Homo sapiens: one gene and its partners. The protein of the gene in region 3 interacts with the protein of the main gene of each other region in a pairwise test. Each region holds a gene or a part of one and is shown on either strand. Other genes may lie near its edges.

What was found. Proteins that work in one complex are often made in the same cells at the same time.
Region 1: the proteins of FAM124B (region 3) and SP7 interact in binary tests that used the Homo sapiens proteins (3 or more experiments, as listed by UniProt).
Region 2: the proteins of FAM124B (region 3) and BIRC7 interact in binary tests that used the Homo sapiens proteins (3 or more experiments, as listed by UniProt).

What each region holds. Positions count from the first base shown.
Region 1 is NC_000012.12:53,333,354-53,341,039, forward strand, and holds the start of SP7 (transcription factor Sp7), read right to left. Parts: upstream 3,002-7,686; 5' UTR 2,793-3,001; intron 2,424-2,792; exon of another isoform or gene 2,341-2,423; 5' UTR 2,294-2,340; coding exon 2,273-2,293; intron 1-2,272. UniProt on the Homo sapiens protein: Transcriptional activator essential for osteoblast differentiation. Binds to SP1 and EKLF consensus sequences and to other G/C-rich sequences.
Region 2 is NC_000020.11:63,231,646-63,238,905, forward strand, and holds the start of BIRC7 (baculoviral IAP repeat-containing protein 7), read left to right. Parts: upstream 1-4,259; 5' UTR 4,260-4,451; coding exon 4,452-4,800; exon of another isoform or gene 4,801-6,257; coding exon 6,258-6,357; intron 6,358-6,750; coding exon 6,751-6,832; intron 6,833-6,923; coding exon 6,924-6,969; intron 6,970-7,133; exon of another isoform or gene 7,134-7,197; intron 7,198-7,260.
Region 3 is NC_000002.12:224,399,103-224,406,353, forward strand, and holds the start of FAM124B (protein FAM124B), read right to left. Parts: upstream 3,006-7,251; 5' UTR 2,667-3,005; coding exon 1,935-2,666; intron 1,404-1,934; coding exon of another isoform or gene 1,317-1,403; exon of another isoform or gene 1,275-1,316; intron 1-1,274.

The DNA.
Region 1 (7,686 bases), on a different chromosome or scaffold from region 3:
CAAGACAAACAGAATTAAAGTATTGAAGTGGGAGTGTTTGGAAAAAGAACAAGATAGGAGCTGTCCCAACTCTCCCACCCAGATGTGGAGCAGGGGAGGGGGATCCCCTCCTCCCAGGGAGCTCATGGTGCAGTGCCCAGCCTGGCCTCCCAGCGGAAGTGCTCACTAGACATCTCAGGGCTGACTGGCCTTAGGTTTGGAGCAGTCAAGGTCCCATTTTCCAGTTCTCAACTTTCTCAGCCTTCTCCCAAGTTTCTTCGTTTTCCCAGCTTCCCAATTCTCCTTTCCCACCTAGGCCCCCAACAATTTCTTCCCCTTCCCTGTTCCCCTGAATCTCACTTGGCCGAGGTGAGCCCCCCATCAAGCAGCAGCTGCTTCCCACTGCCAGAGAGCCCACCCATACAAGGTGGAGGGCTTCCTGGGGAGGTGGGGAGGAAGTTGAGGGCCCAGGTACTCAAAAACTAGGTGCAAGTGGTCGAGGGACAGGAGGGACTGGTGTGCCTTCGTGTTGCAGGCATCTCCAGCTCACAGGAGTGAGGGGACATGAAAGTCTAGCTTCCACAACACTCTCCTTTCGCCATGCACTATCCCAATCCCATGTCTTTCCAGCAGGCCTCTGGGCCAGTCCCTCCCAAGCCACCAGCGCCACGTTGGCAACACTGGCATGATGCCCACGCCCACTGACACTGTCCCTGCCCTGGGTGGACCCAGGATTTCCATGCATCTTATTCCTCAAGACCACAGTGTTTCAATGATGGCTCAAAATAGAGTCTGTTGGGGAGGTGGCAGGATGACAGTCTGCTCCCATTGCAGCTACGGGTAGACCCCTGGCTGGATACAGAGTGTGACAAGGGACGTGGTGTCCATCTGGTTGGCTTGCATGCTATTCCCCCAAACTCAGCCACAAATTCACTATCTCACAGCCTTGTGCACACACCATTTATCACTTGGACTCACAGCACTCAGATGGCCCAACTTACACACACACACACACACACACACACACACACACACACACACACTCTCAGGGCCTGTGGCACCCTCGACTGCACCCTAACGATTACACTCAGGCCAATGAACACAGGTGTTAAAAGACTCCTGCCCCATCTCACAAACACACACCTCTCCCACAGGTTGAGTGAGTTGGCTTCCTGTTTGGCCCAGCACCCCTGGGCCTGAGCTAGGGCACTGGGAAGAGAGATGTGGGACCCAAGAATAGGGAAGAGTCAAGGCTACTGAAGGGGACTGACTTTCAGGGAGGGCCCTCTGGCCCTAAATTCCTGCAGAGAGACCCAGAAAGCAGGACAGAGATGGTGACAGAGGAACAGTGTCAGAGACCCAGAAGCAGGGAGGAATCTGGCCCTGAGTGGCTGTGAGCCCTGCCTTCCCAACTCTGTGCCTTGGGTCCCCCAGAAGCCAGAGTAGAGTCAGAAATTTCTCAAGACCCCAAACCCTGACCCCAGTGGTACCCCAATTCCCTTTGTCCCCAGCACCAGAGGCAAGGGATGCTGGGGTCCCAGCCCGGAGGGGAAGTGGCCCAGTCCGCCCTGGAGCCTCCCACTCCCAAAATAGAGCTGAGTTTGTCTTTGGCTGAAAGCTAAATATTTGTAAGCCGGGCAAGCGGCCTCAGACCCCGTCCCTCCTCCTTGGTTCCCTCACAGGCCTGGGCTCAGTTCCCCTGGTCAGCTCCCCCACAGGCACAGGCTGGCCTCCTCCTTTCTCTCATAGCCTACCTCCTCTCCTCCACACACCAGCTCACGGGCCCAGCCCCCTCCCCACAAAACCAGGCAAGATCCTGTCTGGGCTACGAGTCCCAGGAGACGGGACCCCTAAAGAGCTATACCCAGTTGCTGCTCTGTGCCCACTCAGCCAGTCCTCTCTGCCTTCTATCTCTTCTGCCAGCTTATGTATTTCCCACCCCTCTCTCCTCACTCCCCCTCGCCCCCCTCCCCCTCCTTTCTCCATCGCTTTTCCACTCCTCACAGTCAGTGTGCTTAGCTGACCTTAGGTAGGGGTCCATGCCTTCTTCTGACCTAATCCCCTCTCACCCTCTTTCCACTGCCCTCTGACCCCTGGCCCTATTCTTCCCTCCCTTTTCTCCTGCCCTCTGCTTCCCCTTTCTTGGACCCCACTCCTCTCTCCTCATCAGAAGGACCCCTGGAATTGACAAGCACCACAGCTACTATCTATGTGAGTTGGAGGAGGTGGGTGGGCAAGGACTAGGACCATTAAGGTTGTGGCTGGTTTCCTGGGGGGAAGAGGGGACAGTTACCTCAAGCAGGGAGGACGCCATCCTGAGGCTGGGGAACGGGTCCCAAGGAGCCAGGCAGATGGAGAGAGCTGAGCCGGGGGGTGGGGGGGGTAGAGAGAGAAAAGGGAGAGGGAGGGAGAATGGGAGAATGGGAGAGAAGAGATCTAAAGTTAGAAGGGACCGGGGTGGGGGGCTGCTCTCTGTCTGTAGGGATCCACCCTCTAATTACAGCTTTCCCAGCGGAGAAGGCTCCAGATCCAATGAGGAGGGCGAGAGAGGGAGGCAGAGGGTCCAAATTTCCTGCTCCATTTGCTGAGCTCCCCAAAGAAGGGATCAGGGAGGGAGAGGAGAAAAAGGGGCGCCCATGGAAGGGGTGGGAAGCAGGAAGAGGGGAGAGCAGCATGGGCAAGTTGTCAGGGCTTCCTCGGGGGGCTGCTGAGGGGAGAGGTTAAAGGGATGGTGGACCCCGGTGTCCTACACGCGGCAGCAGTCCCATAGGCATCTGTGGGCACCCCTCCCAGAGCTCCCCAGTGTCATGTACCTGGGGGAACCTGGGGCTGGCTGTCCCGAGTCTCTCCTCTCTGGAGGTCTGGCAGGGAGAGTGCAGGCAACGGGTGGCCTGAGGGTGCTGGGAGGGATCCGCTCTCTCCCAGGCCAGCTCCACTCCTGTTCCACTCAGGCTCCGGTCCTACAGTCCTACTCTGACTCCAGAGTCCTTGCTGCTGCTCGGCGGCTGCTGCTTCTGCTACTGCTGCTGCCTAGGCTGCTGCCGCCCGCCGCTGCTGAGGGAAGGAACAGGAGGGAAAAGGAACAAACCCCAAACCACTAATTAGAGATCCAGGGGGGGGATGGGGGGTTGGGGACGACACTCACACAGAGAGACTGGAACGCACTGACATACACACTCATGGCCAAACACAGGGGTGATGCATGCACACGTACACACAGTACCACTCACATGGGTACAGCCACTATCATGAATGAACACAGACGGACACACACAAATGCACACAGTGACGCACTGGAGGCACACGCACCACACCCGCCCCAGCTGACCATGGAGAGGCTTGCTTCCCCAGTCACCCACCTGCCTCTAGATCAGGAGAGCAGTGTGTATGTGCCCCTGTGTGTGTGTACGTGCCCGTGTGTGTGTGTGTGTGTGTATGTTGTGGGAAGAGGCATGGAAGGTTCTGAGGTGGAGGTTTCTGCTGCCTAAACTTTTAGTGTCACTGAGGTTGGTTCCAGAGCAAGGCCTGGAGGAAGGGTTGAAGAGTTGGGGAAGGCTTGGTATTGGCTTGGGGGTCCCTCAGTCTTCCTCCCAGTGCCTCAGTTTCACTGTTTGGAGGTGATACCTAGGCCTACCTCACTTTGTGGGGCAGAACCTGGATCTTCTGATGAAGAGAAAATTTAAGACAAGCAGGAGTGAGGGTGGCGGTAGAAGGTCATTGGGTCAACTCATTCATGCCGACACCTAACCTCTTTGGATTATTTCCCCCAAAAAGAAATGCCCTAACCTCCATATTCCTTGTCAGTTACCATCCCTGGGTAACCAAGTTACCATCTCTTAGAGACCATGGGTTTAATCTCCATCCTTTGGTGGACAGTTCTCCAGAGTGATCTGACTTTCCTGGGAACTCCTGGTTCCCTTTCTCATTGCCATGCATCAATTCCCTCTTCCACAGAAAGAACTGAAGTTAGAACTTAATAAGGACTTCCCAACAAAATAGGAAGTAAGAGAAGGAAGGGCAGCCAGGTTAGGAGGGAAACCCAAAAAGTCTATTACCTGAAACCTGGGCCATGGGCCCTGAGGTATTTATGGGAGAGAGGACTGGGCAGCTAAGTGGTGACACCGGCAGCTCTCCCACAGGGGGGCTTAGCCCGCTGGGGTTGTTTTACAGGTTATTCCTTAACACACACTTCTCCCCCTCCCAGCTCTCCCTGTCAGGGGAATAAAGCCCCATCCTTTCCACTCTCCTCACTCTGCAACACCATCCCCTCACTTTCTCGGAGTGCCCAATTCCTTGCTCCTTTTGCTCTCCCAGATCTCCAAAGAAAAAGCTGGGAGGTGGCAGGAGCAGATGGAGGTCCACGGAGGGTTGCACAGCAGTTTCGCCAGCAGGTAGGCACCAATTTCAGGGTAGGGCCCAGGAGTTCTGGATTCTAGCCCCATGATTTGATTTACCTCAAGGAACTCTGGGAACCCAAGGTTTAGGGGAAGGGTTTGGGAACCAGGTGGCTGATAGACAAAGAGAAAGCAGCAAAAGAAGAAACAGAGCAAATGAAAGAGTCCAAGACAATCAGAAGAGATATCACCAGGTATAAGAGAGAGGAAACAGGAAAACAGAAGACCAGATGTGTGGCTTTAAACAACAACAACAACAACAACAAAAAACAGAGCAGGAAAGAAACTAAAAAGATAAAGAAACAGGCCCAGAGGAACAAAGATGGGGAGACAATGGCTTGGGAAGGACAGAGAAAATAGCCTGAGGCATAGCCAGGTCCGGAGGAGGAGGAGGAGGAGGAGGAGGAGGAGGGTTGTGTTGCCAGGCAGGTGGGGGGGCGGGGAAGGAGTATAAATAGCACATAATTGTGTCCGCTGATTACACGGGCCACCCCACCCGTCTGCCTGAGAGGAAGTGCCCGTGGTGGGGTGTCCCTGTGACCTCGCGGTCTCCCCCTTGTTGGGGGGGAGTCTGAGACTGAGGTGCCAGATGGCTTTCCGGGGCCCCGAACTCAGAAGTTGAGAAAGAGAAGCTTTAGAGAAATTCCTGTATCACCAGCAGAAAAGCCCGACCCAGTTAGATCAGGCAGGAAACTGAGGCAGAGGAGGAGAAAGTCTAGATTCTAAAGAAGAGATAGCAGGTGAGGAGGGGGTTGGGACTCAGATTAGATGAGAGAAGAAAGGAAGAAACTGAAGGGGAAAAGGAGGAAGGATGGAAAGATAAATGGACAGACAGGGCTGGGGAGAGGAGTTGGAAGGAAGGGTCACCTTCTCACTCCCCGTGTGGGCTTTAATCCCTAACCCTACCCGGGAAGGGGCAGACGTATTCAAACCCTACTATTCTCTATTCGAACCCTACTATTCTCGGAGAAATAAAAAGGAGGAGCAGAGTCCCAGGAAGATGTGAGCCAGTGCCCCGATGTGTCAACATAGGACACCCTCTGGACACAGAGCCTCTTCCCCACCAGAGATCAGCGCCAAAGATAGGCAGAGGGGCTGCCTGAATCCCCCAGCTGCTGCCCTCAGGAACCCCTGGGTTCTGACTTCTCCATGTCCTTTTTAAAAATAGTCCTGCAGCCCAGCTGAGGCTCTGGTGTTCCTGGGTCCAGCTCCCCAGTCTCCTTCCCAGTGCCCTGAGGGGCTGGGGGCAGCAATTGGAAGCCCTAACCAAGGACCTACCTCCACCCTCTCAGGCCTCCCTCAGCCCAGCCTCCCAGGGGGTGGGGCAGACCAGGGAGAGGCGCCATGTGGCAGGGGCGGGTAGAGGCTGCGGCTCTGGTCCTTCCAGTATAAACCCCCTAGGCATCTGGTTTCTATCCACCACCCCCCACCACCCTGGGGGCCCCTCAGCCTCCGCCCATGGCCACCCAGACGCTGAGCTCCAAGGGATGGATGCCCCAGACGGAAGGGGTGGGATGATGCCTTTCTGATATCCCAATGCCAGGACTGGGCTGAACCACAGGAACCATTCCCTTCCCACCCTCCCCTAGGAGAATCAGGGTGGGCTTTGTAGGTTAGAGGGGGTTGAATCTGGCACCTGCCTCAGTTCTCCAAATGATTTTGGATCTTTTTGGAAAGATCAGTGGGGTGAAAACAGAATGAAAACTGGGGAGAGTGGGGCCGGGTGCAGTGGCTCACGCCGGTAATCCCAGCGCTTTGGGAGGCCAAGGTGGGTGGATCACCTGAGGTCAGGAGTTTGAGACAGCCTGGCCAACATGGTGAAACCCCGTCTCTACTAAAAATACAAAAATCAGCTGAGCGTGGTGACGGGTGCCTGTAATCCCAGCTACTTGGGAGGCTGAGGCAGTAGAATCACTTGAACCCAGGAGGTGGAGATTGCAGTGAGCTGAGATCATGCCATTGCACTCCAGCCTGGGCAACAAGAACAAAACTCCATCTCAAAAAAAAAAAAAAAGAAAGAAAAAAAAAACTGGGGAGAGTGGGAGACCTGTACCCCCTATTCCCAAGGGATGCTACTTCCATCGTCCACACCATCACCCTCTACCACCTTTCTAGGCTGGGCTGTCTCTAAGAGCCTCATCCAAAGGGACTCCCAACTCTTCATTGTTGCTGTTATAGAAGGTTTGACTACCCTAGGGAGAATCACCAGAGAATAGTGAGCAGAGCCCCTGAAATAGAGACTGACACATGCCCTAATACATACCTGATGACAGACACATTCAGATCTGCATACTTGCACACACACAAGGTGACACATAATTCATACACATTTGTACTATGCAGGCATCCATATTGACACACACTGATATATACATATACAGATAATGCTTACCCCAAGACACCCTAACCCCCAATCATAAAAATGCACACACCAGTATATATATACATGCATACAGACTCACAGCCACCTAGAATACTCCCCACATGGACTCACAGACTCCCATCAACACACGTATCTACACATGTGGCAAATGTCACATACATATACCCAGGGCTACCATTACAACTTTACAGCCCTGGAGATCTCTGTGGTCTCCTAAAGGGCATTTGGGAACCCCTCTCCCTATAAGGATCTGGAGATAAGGGTGATATGGAGGCCACTGCCAGTCCTGCAAATTGCTGCCTCCAACTCCTACTAGTATAAGAAGTTCCAGTGTACCTTTAGGTACTTTTGATCCAATACTCCACACACACACCAGAGTTCAGAGACCCAGATGGCCCCAGCGAACTCCCTGGTCCTGGGGAACCCCAGCATCCCTACCCCCACCCAGGCCCCCGCTGCTCTGCGGCCCCGCTGACTCATCTCTCCCTCTGTGGAGCTCCCCAACCACAGGGGCCTGGAAGAGAAGCTTGGAAAGTTGCGCTCATGTCCCGGGCCCCTGGTCTGGCCACTACCCGCCCATGCACCCAGCCCAGCCCTTGTCTCCAGTGGATACTCCAGCGACAGAGAACATAGAGGGGACAGGAAAGAAGAAGGCACGCAGAGACAGGGAAACAGAAAGACACAGGAGAGACAAAGAGGAAACAACAAATGGTGGGCATACAGATGAGAGACCCTGAGGATCAGCTACTAGTCTGTTGGGTCCTCTAAGAGCAATGGGGCTGATGACCAGGAAAGCTTGCTCCTTGGGTTGAAGGAACATCCATTCATGGCCTCAGGATTTAGAGACTGCCGAGTGCCTTGACCCAGCATTTCTGACACTAGGCTCAGGGTACTTGGGGAAGAGGATCCAATTTTAGGAGGCAAAGCTGA
Region 2 (7,260 bases), on a different chromosome or scaffold from region 3:
AAAAACATCTTAAGGAATCAACAAAAGCCTCATGACTGTAATATCAGGGATCGCATCTGTGGGAACACAGTGGTCACGACCGAGGGCAACGTGGTGATGTTTAGCAGCGAGAAAGCGGGCCACCGTGCAGTCTGATTAATGCTTAATTATAATAATATTTCTGTCCAGAACCCGACATGCAATTCTTGTCAGCCCTGTGGAGACAGTTTTGTTACAGGAAAGGGGTCCGGATCCAGACCCCAAGAGAGGGTTCTTGGATCTCCTGCAAGAAAGAATTCAGGGTGAGTCTGTAAAGTGAAAGCAAGTTTCTTAGGAAAGTAAAGGAATCAAGAATGGCTACTCCATAGTCAGAGTAGCCCTGAGGGCTGCTGGTTGCCCACTTTTTTGGTTATCTCTTGATGATACGCTAAACAAGGGGTGGATTATTCATGCCTCCCCTTTTTAGACCATCTAGGGTAACTTCCTGATGTTGCTATGGCATTTGTAAACTGTCCTGGCGCTGGTGGAGAGTGAGGACGTCCAGAGGTCACTCTCGTGACCATCCTGGTTTTGGTGGGTTTTTGTCGGCTTCTTTGCCACGACCTGTTTTATCAGCAAGGTCTTTGTGACCTGTATTTTGTGCTGACCTCCTGTCTCATCCTGCGACTTAAAATGCCTTCACCGTCTGGGAATGCAGCCCGGTGGGTCTCAGCCTCATTTTACCATTTTACCCAGCTCCCGTTCAACACGGAGCTGCTCTGGTTCACATGCCTCTGACGGTTTCACCTTCTGCTCAGAGCATTTGGACCTCCACAGGCTCTGACTCAGCCCTCTTATCCCAGGCTGATCCCATCCCCGTCTAAAAATCCCACTAACTTCCTTCTGAGAAAGTTGAGAGTCTTGTTTATACTAAAGTGTTAATGACTCACAAAGCATTCCCAGAGGAAAAGTTAACAGGAGGAGACTGTGAGGCTCTGGCGGTGAAAGGTCAGGCATGAGCCCTGGGGGAGATGTTTTCTTCTCTGGAGGCCCCTCCTGAGACCCCCCATCTCTGCACAGGAAGACGAACCCTGTGCCCAGCGGGTCCACCTATCTGCCCACGTGGCCCCAACCCCAGGCTTCATGGAGTAGAGCAGGGCTCATTCGTGTGGCACCCACACGCAGTTTCAGGGCGTGGACTTTCCCGGATGGCTGGGTGGCTTTGGGGGAGGTGTGAGCTGTTGGTGGAGAATGCTGAGCCCGGCCCTGACGACGGTCCTCTTTTCCTGCCTTAATAGGCTAGTCCCCATCACTGTGGGGGGCAATTTGGGGATATTCTCCTCCAACTCCTGCTGGTTCTGAATCTTGCAGGGAGCTGCAAATCCCAGTCACTGTGGGGTCTTGGGGCTTCTAGGAGTCCCTGCTGGGCCCAGGGCTTTTTTCTCACTGACCTGGAGGCCTCTCCCCACGGCTCCCCATCTGACATCTTCTCAGCTGGGAGACTTAATTGTAAAGACTCACAGGGATCCAGGGGGCATCACAGGGGGCCCTCCTAGGTACTGACAGATGTTTATTCATTTTGAAAAATGGGCAAATAGCAAATAAAGATGTTTAGGGTATGTTTGGAAGAAAACAGCAAAATAGTAACAGCAGTGCTTACCGCTCAGCGGGGAGAAGGCATATGGGTTTTCCCAGCTTTTATTTGGAAATCATTGTAGATGCAGAATTGCAAAGAAGCCTAGAGGTGTCCATGCACCCTGCCCCACCCCACGGTATCATCCTGCAAAGCTGCAGGGCAACTGCCAAATCCAGACACACACGCCCCGGTGCCCACAGGGATGGCTCAGACATCGAACTTCGCTTTCTTTATACTCCCAGTATTCCCGACACTTCTGGAATAGGCACATGACCATTATTTTTAGCTCCTTATTTCTTTTTATTTAATTAAATAAGCAACATATGGATAGTCCTTGTTTTGAGAATTTTGGGCCGGCCGCACACGGCAAAGCAGCTGAGCGCCCCTCAGCAGCTCCCTGCACAGTTACGCACTGGGATGGCACTGCGATGCGTGTGGAGAAACACCTGCTGGGTTTGGAGGTGCACAGGACCTCGGGGCGATCCCACCGGAGGAGCGGGGCTCGGCTTATGGCCCAGCTAACCCCAACTCCCCAGTGGGCCCCAGGGCCTTTCCTTCCACTTCCAGGAGTGACACCAACCTTGTCTCCTCTCCGAGCCCCAAGCAGTGGGAAGAGAGGGTCCCATAACAGGCCATGGCAGCGGCCTCTGCTGCCTGCCCACCTCAGAGGGTCCCCAGCTTGAGAGTTCAGAGCAAACCTGGGTGCTGCATGTGTCTCTCCCCTGGAAGAAGCAGGCTGGAGACAGTGGCCCCTCTTCCCACCTCCCCGGTGCACTGCGGGCAGACTGGGAACCAGGCAGCAAATCCACCCAGCTTGAGGCCCACGTCCTCCTGAAAGGGCCCCAGGCCCACACCCGGGGTTTTGCTGAAGTGACCAAAGGTAACCGCTGTGCTGAGGGGGCGGTGGAGGACAGGGAGGGGGCGAAGGCGAGGTGGGCGCTGGAGGACGTGGGGGTGAAGGCGAGGTGGTCGCTGGAGGACAGGGAGGGGGCGAAGGTGTGGTGGACGCTGGAGGACAGAGAGGGGGCAAAGGCGAGGTGGGCGCTGGAGGACAGAGAGGGGGTGAAGGCGAGGTGGGCACTGGAGGACAGAGAGGGGGCGAAGGCGAGGTGGGCACTGGAGGACAGAGAGGGGGCGAAGGCGAGGTACCCTGAGATCATCCCAGAAAACACACTGGGAAGTTCTACCTTGTGTCTAGCCTAACTCCTTTGCTGGCCCTCAGGCCCTTTCCCGACAGCCCTCCCCTCCTATGCCCCTGAGCTTCCTGCTGCCTCTCCCTCTGCGCCCTGCAGCCCTGGCTTCTGGGCTCTATCCTCAGCAGGGCCTGCAGACACCCCAGAGGCCTTAAGAGCCTGGGAGGGGTTTCCAGCCACACCCTTCACTTTGATTTCTGCAGGAAACCAGGTGGCTCTGGGCCTTGCATAGGAAAGGGTTGGGGGTCTCGCTGGGGCCTGGCAACACTGGCCTGAGTATGACCAGAACAGTCACCAGAGGCCTCCTGGGAGGGCGGGTGCAGCCCCAGCCCCCGCCGTGAGTGGGGGTCGGGGGGCAGGTGTGAAAGTGTGGTGGGCAGCAGCTGGGTCTATGCGGCTCAGCAGTGGGAAGAGAACGGGCCAGGCTTCCAGGTGAGCTCAGGGACGGTTTTCACTGCAGCTAACCCTCTCCTGCCCACCTGCGCTCCCCGTGGCAACCAGCGGCCCTGCAGCGTGCGACTCCTCTTTATTCTTCCAAACTCTGTGAGCCTGCACGCTCCCATCCAGGACGGAACAGCAGGGGAGAGTGGCTGAAGGATGACAGGGGGCTTTTAGGGCCAGCCGGGTGGATGAGCTGGGTTTGCTGGGGTTGAGGGCTCAGTCGGGGGTTGGGGGGTGTCGAAGTCTGGGCCCCATCCAGCTGTCCTTTTTGTCCCGCCCAGGTGTCCCTGGGGTTCCTGTTCTGCCCCTGGCTTCTCTGGGGTTAAGTCCTCCTCCCTGTTCCCTCACTGTGGGGTTTGGCAGTGTGGCACAGTGTGGAGCTTGGACCGGCAGCCAGGGTCACAGCAGACCTCAGGAACTCCGATTCCAGTGCCAACACTGAGTACTCCTCTTTTGGGGGCATCAGAGCCTCTCCCTTGGCTACCTGGGGAGGCTGGTATGGAGGGAGGTGGAGGGAGATGGGGGAAGGGGGAGCGGGAGGTGAGGGCAGCTCGGGCCCTTCTTTTTGCTCTGATCTTCCTGGCCTGAGGACAAGAGCTGCTCCCAGACCTGCAGAGGCCCCTTGGGGCAGAGGGATGTTTCAGAGAACAGCCGGGTGACCTGCCTCCCTGCTCTGCGTGACGCAGCCCTAGGCCCCTGTGAGGCTAGAGTCACCCCCGCAAGGTGGGAGGTCACGGCCCCTGCCTGCACAGGCAGCACAGCTCACATGTCCTTCCTTGAGCCTTCTCTGCTTCCGGAGGCTGCCCTGGGCGCCTGACCTTGGAGCCATCATCTCCAGCTCCCCAACCCCTCCCCCACAGCCCTGGGGCAGACACCAGCCTGGGGAGGGGTCTCCATGCTCAGTTCCTTCCCGTCTTGTTCAGAGAGACGTGGCCTGCCCACGTGCAGTCAGCGGCATCCGCAACCCTGCCAGGGGCCCCGTGACACGCCCCCGCTGCACAGAGCATGTGACCCCAGAGGCCACCCTGGCCACTTCCAGAAAGCTGTGGGCCCTGGGATACTCCCCTCCCAGGGTGTCTGGTGGCAGGCCTGTGCCTATCCCTGCTGTCCCCAGGGTGGGCCCCGGGGGTCAGGAGCTCCAGAAGGGCCAGCTGGGCATATTCTGAGATTGGCCATCAGCCCCCATTTCTGCTGCAAACCTGGTCAGAGCCAGTGTTCCCTCCATGGGACCTAAAGACAGTGCCAAGTGCCTGCACCGTGGACCACAGCCGAGCCACTGGGCAGCCGGTGATGGTCCCACGCAGGAGCGCTGTGGACCCCGCTCTCTGGGCAGCCCTGTCCTAGGCCTGGACACCTGCAGAGCCTGGGACCACGTGGATGGGCAGATCCTGGGCCAGCTGCGGCCCCTGACAGAGGAGGAAGAGGAGGAGGGCGCCGGGGCCACCTTGTCCAGGGGGCCTGCCTTCCCCGGCATGGGCTCTGAGGAGTTGCGTCTGGCCTCCTTCTATGACTGGCCGCTGACTGCTGAGGTGCCACCCGAGCTGCTGGCTGCTGCCGGCTTCTTCCACACAGGTCAGTCCCGGGCGGGGGGGCCTTCCTGCCGTGGGCCTGGGCACGATTCTGGACCCTTCCAGCCCAGGGCTCTGCCTCCTCCGTAGCATCCATCCCCCAACAGGAAGGGTCTGGCCTGATGACGGAGCAGTGGTCCTGCAAGCCCCTCCAGTGCCCATGGGCTCGTGCCTGACACCCTCCCCCGGAGTCTCTGCTGGCTGAGTGTTTCAGACCGTGGGATGTGAGGAGGGGCTGCCTCTGGCCACAGTCTGAGGGTCTCAGCTGTGGAGGCCGCCAGCTTGGTGCACAAGTACCCCTTTGTGATAGAAGTGGGTGGGGCTGACATTGCCTGGGGCCCTCACCTTCCCCGCTGCTGTTCTGCACAGGGAGAGGAGATGTTTAAAGAACAGGATCAGGGTGACCAAGGCAGGCAGTGGTCAGCCAGAAGGTCCTGGATGCTCAGCCTGTGGGGAATTTCTCCAGGCCCCAACCTGCAGCTACTGTCTGGTCTTCCCCAACTGAATCAAGTCCCCGGAGTACCTATCCTAGTCTTGGCCCGGGCCTGCTCCTCTGCCCTACAGCTGCAGACCATGTGGTCAGACCTGAGTTCAGGTCCCAGCTCTGCCACTTCCTGGCTGAAGGACAGGGCAGCAGGGCCCACCGAGGGCTTTACAAATACTGGCACAGCCATGGTCATTGTCAGCAGTGGGCTCTGGCGGGGCACCATCCTGGTAAGGCTGGACCAACTTAAGACAGCTGGTCGGGGGGACAGTGGCTGGGACAGTCAGAAGCCGTGGCGTGAAGGGGCAGGCCCAGCTCACCCACCTCCCTGGAAGTCCAAGGCTCAGGAGGCAAAGGCCAGGCAAGAGGCATGGCAGGTGCAGAGCCGGGGTCTTTGGGGCTGGTAGAGGTCCAGTGCCCGATGCAGCCCAAACCTGTGATGTCAGTGGCAGGTGACGTATCGCATGGATGCCGATGAGGGGACGGGGTCGCCAGGAGGTAGAGAGATGACGGGTCCCCCACCCCCAAAGGGAGGCATGAGTTCCTAAAAGCAAGCCTGGCCCCAGACTGGCCTTCTAGGGCAGCCTCCCTTCTTCTTCTCACTGGGAATCCATCTTGGGGAAGCAGAGACCTGGGGAGGGGCCCTTCTGGCTCCTGAAGCCCCAGGGCTATAGATGTACCAAGCCCTGGGGGGCCCCCACTGCTCACTCTGGGAACAATGCAAATGCCAGCTCAGTCCTTTCCTGAACATTCTCGCCCATCCTGGCCGGCACCCCAGTCACCCTTGTCCCCTTTTCACCTTTGATGCTAATGAGGTACAAGTGACATCCCCCACCAAGCCCCCTGCCCACCCCCTCCTCCTTCTTGCCACCTGGGAGCTCCCCTCCAGCTGAAGCTCTCATAGCCTTGGAAGGACACACCGGGGGCCCGGGGACTGGGTGGGACTTGGCTGGGGCCAGCATCTCTCCGCACCCCAGGCCATCAGGACAAGGTGAGGTGCTTCTTCTGCTATGGGGGCCTGCAGAGCTGGAAGCGCGGGGACGACCCCTGGACGGAGCATGCCAAGTGGTTCCCCAGGTACCGGCTGCCCCTGCGGGGCCCCGGGTCTGATCATGGGTAGGGGGTGGGCCCCCAACGGCTCTGTCGACCCAACACCAGGCCTGCTTTGCCTCCCTGGCCCCACAGGGCACTGGGGAGGCCCTTCTGTGGGAGGTGCTTCTGGCCGGCAGGTACCCACTTTTCCTGTGAGGGCCCCTTTTCGGAAGGGCTGCTGGGGGCAGAAATGCCTCTCCCATGGGACTACCCTGAAGCCCCATGGAGGCGTCTCCACAGCAGCCCTCCTCGCCCATGCCCACGGGCACTGCAGGGTGGCGGGAGGAGGGGGCCCAACCCTGACCCCCGGGGATCCAAGGGCTTGAAGCAGACAGTGGGGGCCCTGAACCCCAACCTACATCTCTGGGGCATCTGCAGCTGTCAGTTCCTGCTCCGGTCAAAAGGAAGAGACTTTGTCCACAGTGTGCAGGAGACTCACTCCCAGCTGCTGGGCTCCTGGGTGAGCGCCACCTCTCCTCGGGGCTCCGGGTGGCAGTGGGGTCCTGCCCCTCCTATTTCCCCAAGGCCTGATGGTCTCTGGCTCCTTCCAGGACCCGTGGGAAGAACCGGAAGACGCAGCCCCTGTGGCCCCCTCCGGTGAGAGCTGACACCACCCCTGCTGACTCCTTGTGCGCCTGCAGCCTGTGCTTGGCCAAGGCCACTGGGTGTCCCCACCCTCCCAGACAGCAGGGAGAGTGACGGGCACGTGACAGGGTGTGACGCTGCTGCCTGGGTTGGCTTCAGGGGGCTGTGCCATGTGAGGGTGGGGGCGGGGCGGCAGGGGCCTCCCCCAGTGCCAGGCCCCATTCTGCTTCTCTCCCAGCTTACCCCTTGGGCACAGCCCATTGCCTGTCGCCATACCACCCCCAACAGTGCCCAGCACACAGC
Region 3 (7,251 bases):
TCTTCTACACTCCCCAAATGTGACTCAACTTTCCAAAGTAACTAAGTTGTTTAAACTGTGGTTCCATAGCAAAAATGTCAGTCAGCCTTAAAGACAGGAATGATTAAAATCATGTCCCTTGCTGCACACACACATTACATTTTTGTTTGACCATGAGGTTGATTTTAAGTACTAGAGAGTCGCTAAAACTGAAAGAAATTTTAGATGCCTTGGAAATTATGGGGTTTTATAATAGGCAACTAACAGAAACAGTGCCTGTCTACCTTATGTGAGCAAGAAGGTGAATAATTTAGAAATCATTTAATATGGAATATGATTCATGTTTTATTAACAAGTCAAAGTGATGACAACAAAATTAACCAAATGGAAAGACATCTCATCTTGTAGTCTCTTATTACTTTATTCAATAGGCCTTAAGGAGCTTCTGACCATTTCTTAAGGACAGAAGCCACAGGATATTTTGCTGTGAACATGACATTCATCCCCCTGCTTGCACATTTACACACATACACTGGACTGCAGCGGCTGACCACATGAACTTTGAGGGTAGATAGATACTTCCTATCTTGGGCAAATAACTGACCCCCTGGAAAGCTCAGTTTTCTTATCTCCAAAATGGGAAAAATAGTAACTTCATAGGTTGTTATAAGTATTAAATAAAATTATCAATTTAAGAGAATCCTTAGTATAGGGCATAATATGAACAATAATAGCTAAAATTGAGTTCTTGGCACTATCTTAATTATGTACTTTATAAGTGTCAGGTCATTTCCTGTAAGTAAGTATGAGAGAGGAAGATGCTAATTCTCGGGTGCCTTTATTGTGCTAATGAAGAAACTGAGGCCCACAGTCATACAGCTACTAAGTGCCCAGGCTCACATACCATGGAAAGGCAATGCACGGCAGCTATCATGACTAAATACACACATGCTATGTTAGGTTTTCGAGGATGGTTACAAAGGAAGGCTTTAATTTCAAGTTTTTTTAAGAAAGCATTCTATCTAACTTGGTATGTGGTAAAATTTGACAGTGATGCAAGATGCTTAAAAATTAAGTCAATACGAGTTGATGGGTGCAACAAACCAATATGGCACATGTATACCTGTGTAACAAACCTGCACTTTGTGCACATGTACCCCAGAACTTAAAGTATAATAATAAAGAATAAAAATTAAGTCAATAGTACTGCAAACTTAACATCCCTAAACAAGCTCGGCCAACATAGTGAGACCCCGTCTCTAGAAATAAAATAAAATAGCCAGACATGGCGGCACGTGCCTGTAGTCCCAGCTAATCAGGAGGCTAAGGCAGGAGGATCACTTGAACCCAGAAGGTGAAGACCTCAGGGAGCTATGATGGCACCACCGCACTCGAGTCTGGGCAACAGAGGAAGACTCCCATCTCTAAAAAATAAAAAAATTAAAAATTAAAAAAACCATATCTAAACATAAGTATGACTTCAACTTCCTTAAGTCAGATTAGAAGAGCTTGTGACATTCCTGAGCCCAAAGAGTAAACAAAGGATAGGGGTATAGTTGATGGGCATTTAAACGGCAAGCCTGAGAAAGGAGGCCGATTCTTTAATAGGATTCTGATCTTTATAGTAGAATCCTGTCTGATTCTACTATAAAGTACTTGTGTCAGCTGCAAATTCATGGAATCTGAACTTTCTTATCTGTCAGATGAGATTTTATGAGATCAGTGATTCTCAACCCTGTTACAGATTACAGTCATCCAAGAAGCTGTAAAAAAGTTACCTAGGCCTGGATGTTCCCAGAGATTCGGATCAAACTGCCCTGGGGTGGGAATTTATGAAAGACCCTAAGGGACGCTAATATGCAACCAAGTCTGAGAACCACTAGCTTAGGCCCATTCCGATGTAAAATTACACAGCTCCATGAGCCTCTACAAGATCTGAGACAAAACAGAAATACCTGAAGCAGAATCTTGTTGCCATCGTAGTCCTGAGTCTGCCACCTGGTGCTGCTGATAGGCATGCATGGATTGGGTAGCAGAGGCACTAACTGGCCGATCTCTTGAACCTTAAACTGCAGCACCGAAGACTCTTTGGGGTCCACTGACATTCCCGGGGGCAGCTGCTTCAGGGAGAGCTGCAGAGCAAAGCTCTTGGAGGCATAGAGCACGAAGAAACAAAAATTGCTCTTTTGCAAGGTCGCTTCTCTCTGCAGGATCATCTCGTAGAGTCTGATGGCGTCTTCATAGTTATCAAAACTGCAGTACAGCGTCACCCTCAGGATCTCGGAGCCACAGTGCACCTGCCTCACCCCCCAGATGGGCAGCTGACTGTCCAGGCTGTAGAACTCCTGATTGGCAAAAAAGTAGGGACACAGCCTTCCCCGAGTGTCCTGGGTGGGGTAGCACTGCCATGGCGAATGCTGGAGAGAGTCCAGGACGCGAAATAGCCTATCCTCTCCCGGGCTTTCGTGCAGGAAGAGCAACACGGACATCCCTGGAAACCGGGACCGCTTGGAATGGGACTTTTCACAGTATTTCACAGGACTGGCCCGTTCAGACACCTGAAAGAGCCGGACCTCTGGGCAAATGCAATCCAGGAGCTGGTCCAGAGTCCTCTGCAGAAGGGAGCCGTGCCCAGAGTTGGCAAGAAGATGGACAGTCATGGCCAGAGGCCCCTGTGTCTCATCCATGGAGGAACTGCCTGAGGCTGACAAAGACAGCGTGTGTAGAAGGCCCACTGTTCAAGTTTCTGAAATGAATGAAGAAGCGGCCCAGCCTTCAGCCCGCCTGAAAACCTTCAGCTGCAGCGGCTACTTCTGAGCAGAGCTCTTAACCAGACTAACACGTGCTCCTGGCCACCCGTGGACTTACGGCAAGAGAAGCTCACACCAGCTCGGGTTCAGCAGCCTCCCTCTCCACACAGCAGCAGCGGGGTCACGTCATCCAGCTTGTGCATAATGTAACTGCTTGTGTTTAGCCTTTTCAGGCGTTCCCCAGGGTTTCTGCGTGACCTAAAAACCTATAATCCTGAGAAACACCCAAATGGGCGGCTCTTATAGACACTTAGTACAGGAAATGACCGGCCGAAAAGGAACATGAGTTGGCTCTGTTAGGCTGATAGCAATCTGTTTAGTTGAAAAGACATCCATTTTATCAACTTACAACGGGTTCTCATTTCCTACTTACGGTTTACAGTAGCCTGCTCCACCAATCTGAATACAATGACTTCTTGAAAACAATTCTCAAAACCTGACCCTTTGCCAGTTTTTTTTTTCCTTTGTCTCTTTATTTCATTTTGTTTCTGAACATTTTCTGCTAGGGCACGAAGAGAAGACTTTATCTAAATAATTTTGACTTCACTGAAAATTATTTGCTGTACCGAAAATTCTGAGTGTACTAAAAAGACATTGAGAAAATTAGTCTTCCTTTATTCACGCAAATTCTTTAGAAAGAGTGAGAGCTTTCCTATAATTGCTCATATAATTATAATAATAAATAATTATAATTAACAATTGTAATTATAATTTTTAGTGTCTAATGAGGATCTACTATGTACCAGTCATAAACTGTTCTAATTCTTAAAGTAATTAGTTTTGTTTTGTTTTGGAGATGGAGTCTTGCTCTGTCGCCCAGGCTGGAGTGCAGTGGCGTGATCTTGGCTCACTGCAACTTCCACCTCCCAGGTTCAAGAGATTCCCCTGCCTCAGCCTCCCCAGTACCTGGGATTATAAGTGCGCCAACACGCCCAGCTAATTTTTTTGTATTTTTAGTAGAGACTGGGTTTTGCCATGTTGGCCAGACTGGTCTCGAACTCCTGACCTCAGGTGATCTGCCCGCATTGGCCTCCCAAAGTGCTGGGATTACAGGCATGAGTCACCACACCTGGCCCTTAATGTAAATTAATTTAATCTTGCAACAAACCTATGAAGAAGAGATTACTAGCCCCAAATTACAGATGAAGAAACTGGGGCATAGAAAGGCTAGGTAACTTGCCCAAGGTCTCACAGCTAAGAAGTAGCTGAAGGATGATTTGAACCCAGGAACTTGCTGCACTGCCTCTCTGGGGCCTTGAAGTCCCAGCCTGGGTATTCTTCTTGTAAGGAAAAGATATAAAAGCAAGTTCTGGTTAAGGATCTAGATTTGCAGACTCTTGAGCTGTTGAATCTTAAACGGAATAATCTTCAATGAGAAAGTTGTCAAGCTCTAAACACTCACCCTAAATGTGTTCTAAATATTGATTTAAAAATTATTTGTGGCCACGCATAGTCGTCACGCCTTGATCCTAGTACTTTGGGAGGCCGAGGCGGGTGGATCACCTGAGGTCAGGAGTTCGAGACCAGCCTAGGCAACATGGCAAAACCCCGTCTGTACTAAAAACACAAAAATTAGCCGGGCAAAGTGGAGCATGCCTGTAATCCCAGCTACTCAGGAGGCTGAGGCACAAGAATCACTTGAATCCAGCAAGTGGAGGTTGCAGATCGCACTACTGCACTCCAGCCTGGGTGATAGAGCAAGACTCCGTCTCAGAAAATAAAAAATAATAAAAATAAATAAATAAATAAATATTTTTAAAAAATCATTTGCTCTCCTGATAGCTGTGCTCCTCAACAGGTATGAACAAGCACTTTTTCTAAACACAATTCTTTTTAAAAGAGGCAATTGGACCAGGCGAAGTGGCTCACAACTGTAATTTCAACACTTTGGGAGGCCAAAGCAGGACAATCGCTTGAGCCCAGGAGTTCCAGGCTGTGCTGACCTAAATTCATGCCACTGCACTCCAGCCTGGACAACAGAGCAAGACCCTGTCTCAAAGAAAAAAAATGTACTTCAAAAAGAGCTGTAAAAAATTAAAATAAAAGAGGCAAATTTATGAATCCTTATAATGAAACACAGTGTGACAATTTTTTACATTAAAAAATACTTTTGTGATGAAAAATATAACAACTTTATATATCTGGATTCCTTTAATAGTATAACAACCTAATTTAAAGTAAAATATTATTATCCAAGAAAAGGAGTTATTTCTATTCAGATTCACTATGTAAATCTAACGTACAATTCTAATCATTTGTGTTTCATAATTCCTGTACTTTTTGCATGGGAAAAATACATAAATACAATTTATAACAGAGGAATTGTTTCCTAGTTATTGTGAGCAGCTCAGTAATTAAATTCATCTTGTTTCAACTTTTAAAAAAATCATTAGAGGTTTTTTTTTTTGGCATTACAAATCTCAAGCTTTTTTAAAAAAAACTCGACAGCATTCATGTTATGCATTGGCATTGGAAGCAGATAACTATCTCATCTCTCAGTGTGAACACTCTCCCTTCCGCAACCCTTCCATTCACAGAGCTGATTGTACTTTAGACAAAACTATAGTTTTTGAAATAGGCTTTGAAATTCTGGAAATAACTCTAAAGATTTGAGGAGAAAAATTGTTCCCCTGAAACCACGATATTAACTCACAACATTTTGCACAAGGTAAGTATTAAAGCTCTTACATAGGAAAAGATTTTGTTTCTTGATATTATCTTCCATCTAATGCTGAAAATACACTTTTTTCCTGATGAGGTTGTCATTTCTTTCAGGATTGAAAAGATTTCATTAATCTGTTGGCAGCCAAAGTGCCAACAAATCCAAGGGGCAGGAGGCCAGGGAAGAGGGGGACCAGCCTCATTTCTGACTGGCTGTCTCTGTGATTATTTCCCCAGGAACAACGTGAAATACTGACTGACCTTCCCCAAACTGCCTCCACCTTTGGTCACTGCCTTCCACCCACAACAAATGCCAGATTCTCAGCTGTGCAGCACAACAGTGTTTTAGCATGGTGCTTCTGTTGAAGGCACAGACAAAAATACTAAGGGAAATCATCAGCTTTGACTCTCAGCACCCGGACAGCTGTCACTCCAATTCTCTATCTTATTTTTCTTAAACTTGGCAGGCAATGATGCCCAGGTTTCTGCAGTCATCAGCTCCTGGATGGCAGATGGTTGGTCCACTCCTCACAGCAAATGGAGAGGCTGGTGATGAGTCGCTCAAGCAAACCTAGAAAATCCGAGGCTCCATTGGAACCCATGAAAATCCTCGGGGATTTGTCCTTTCTACAAAATACAATGGGATGCATTATAACCTCGAGATTCCCACCCACCCCCAACCCAGGAAAACTCTGAGAAAAAGTTCCTTTCCATCTTTAATTTATAAAATATGTTTATCTCACATGTCAAGAGCCAGGCGTTGCACCAGGAGCAGAAGATAGAATCGTCACCATCCCCCACTTTGGAGGGGCACCCTAAATGATGCAGTCAGTGCCATGATAAAGGGTGCTGCAGGATGTATGGAGACCCCATGGGGAGACACTGAGTTAGACGAGGGGGCCAGGACTGTCACACACTGGTGCAACTGCAAGCAGTTCAAGGTGGCTGGAGTGGAGGTTCAATGAAGAGGAGGGTGGAAGGAAGCCAGGGGCCTGATCAGGAAGGGCCTTGCAGAACACTTTATTTGAATCTGACCAGAACCACCTAAAAGTCAGTATGAAAAGGGAAGTGATGCTTTGAGGAAGCCACGGACACAGCAAGATATGCAGTCAAAGGACAGGTTTGTTGGCTGGTTGGATGCAGGCAGAAAACCGTGGTGGCTAGTCCAGGAGGCATTCCAGGGTGGTACTTGCAGATGTTTGGGTGAAGCTGTCAGTCACCAGATAAGGAATACTGGAAAGGAGGGCAGTTAGGAGTGAGGATGAGGAGGGCAGGGTGGTTGTGTTGTGCATGGATGCCCGTGGGATGGCCAGAGTTGAGATGTCCAGTGGCCTGTTCACTACAGCTTTGAAGGGAACAGTAAACCAGAGAATAGGAATTGGGGAACTGCTGGTCTTCAGGCAGCCATGGGAAAGGATGTGACTACCCAGAAAGAGAAGACACAACAAGGACAGAAGAAGGAAGAGGATAGGATTCCAGGAGTACCCAGTTTAAGAGACAAGCAATGTTTAAGTGGCACCCAGGGCAAAATGGAGAGTGGAGTGTGTTATGAGGACTTCAGAACATGGCTTTGGCTGGGCAGACAGCATCATTTAGTGTTTCAGGCTAACATTTGTGACTCATTTCCCCTTCTCAATTAGGCAAACTCAAAGAAGCAGCTGTCACCAAGCGAACCTCAGAGCCATTCAAGCCTCTGTTTTCCTCGTTCCCAAACAACCTTAACTCTGGTTCTTTGTGTGATACTCACTTGCTAACCAGGGGCGAGGCATTCTAGAACCTGGGGCACTACTTGGAGAAAAGG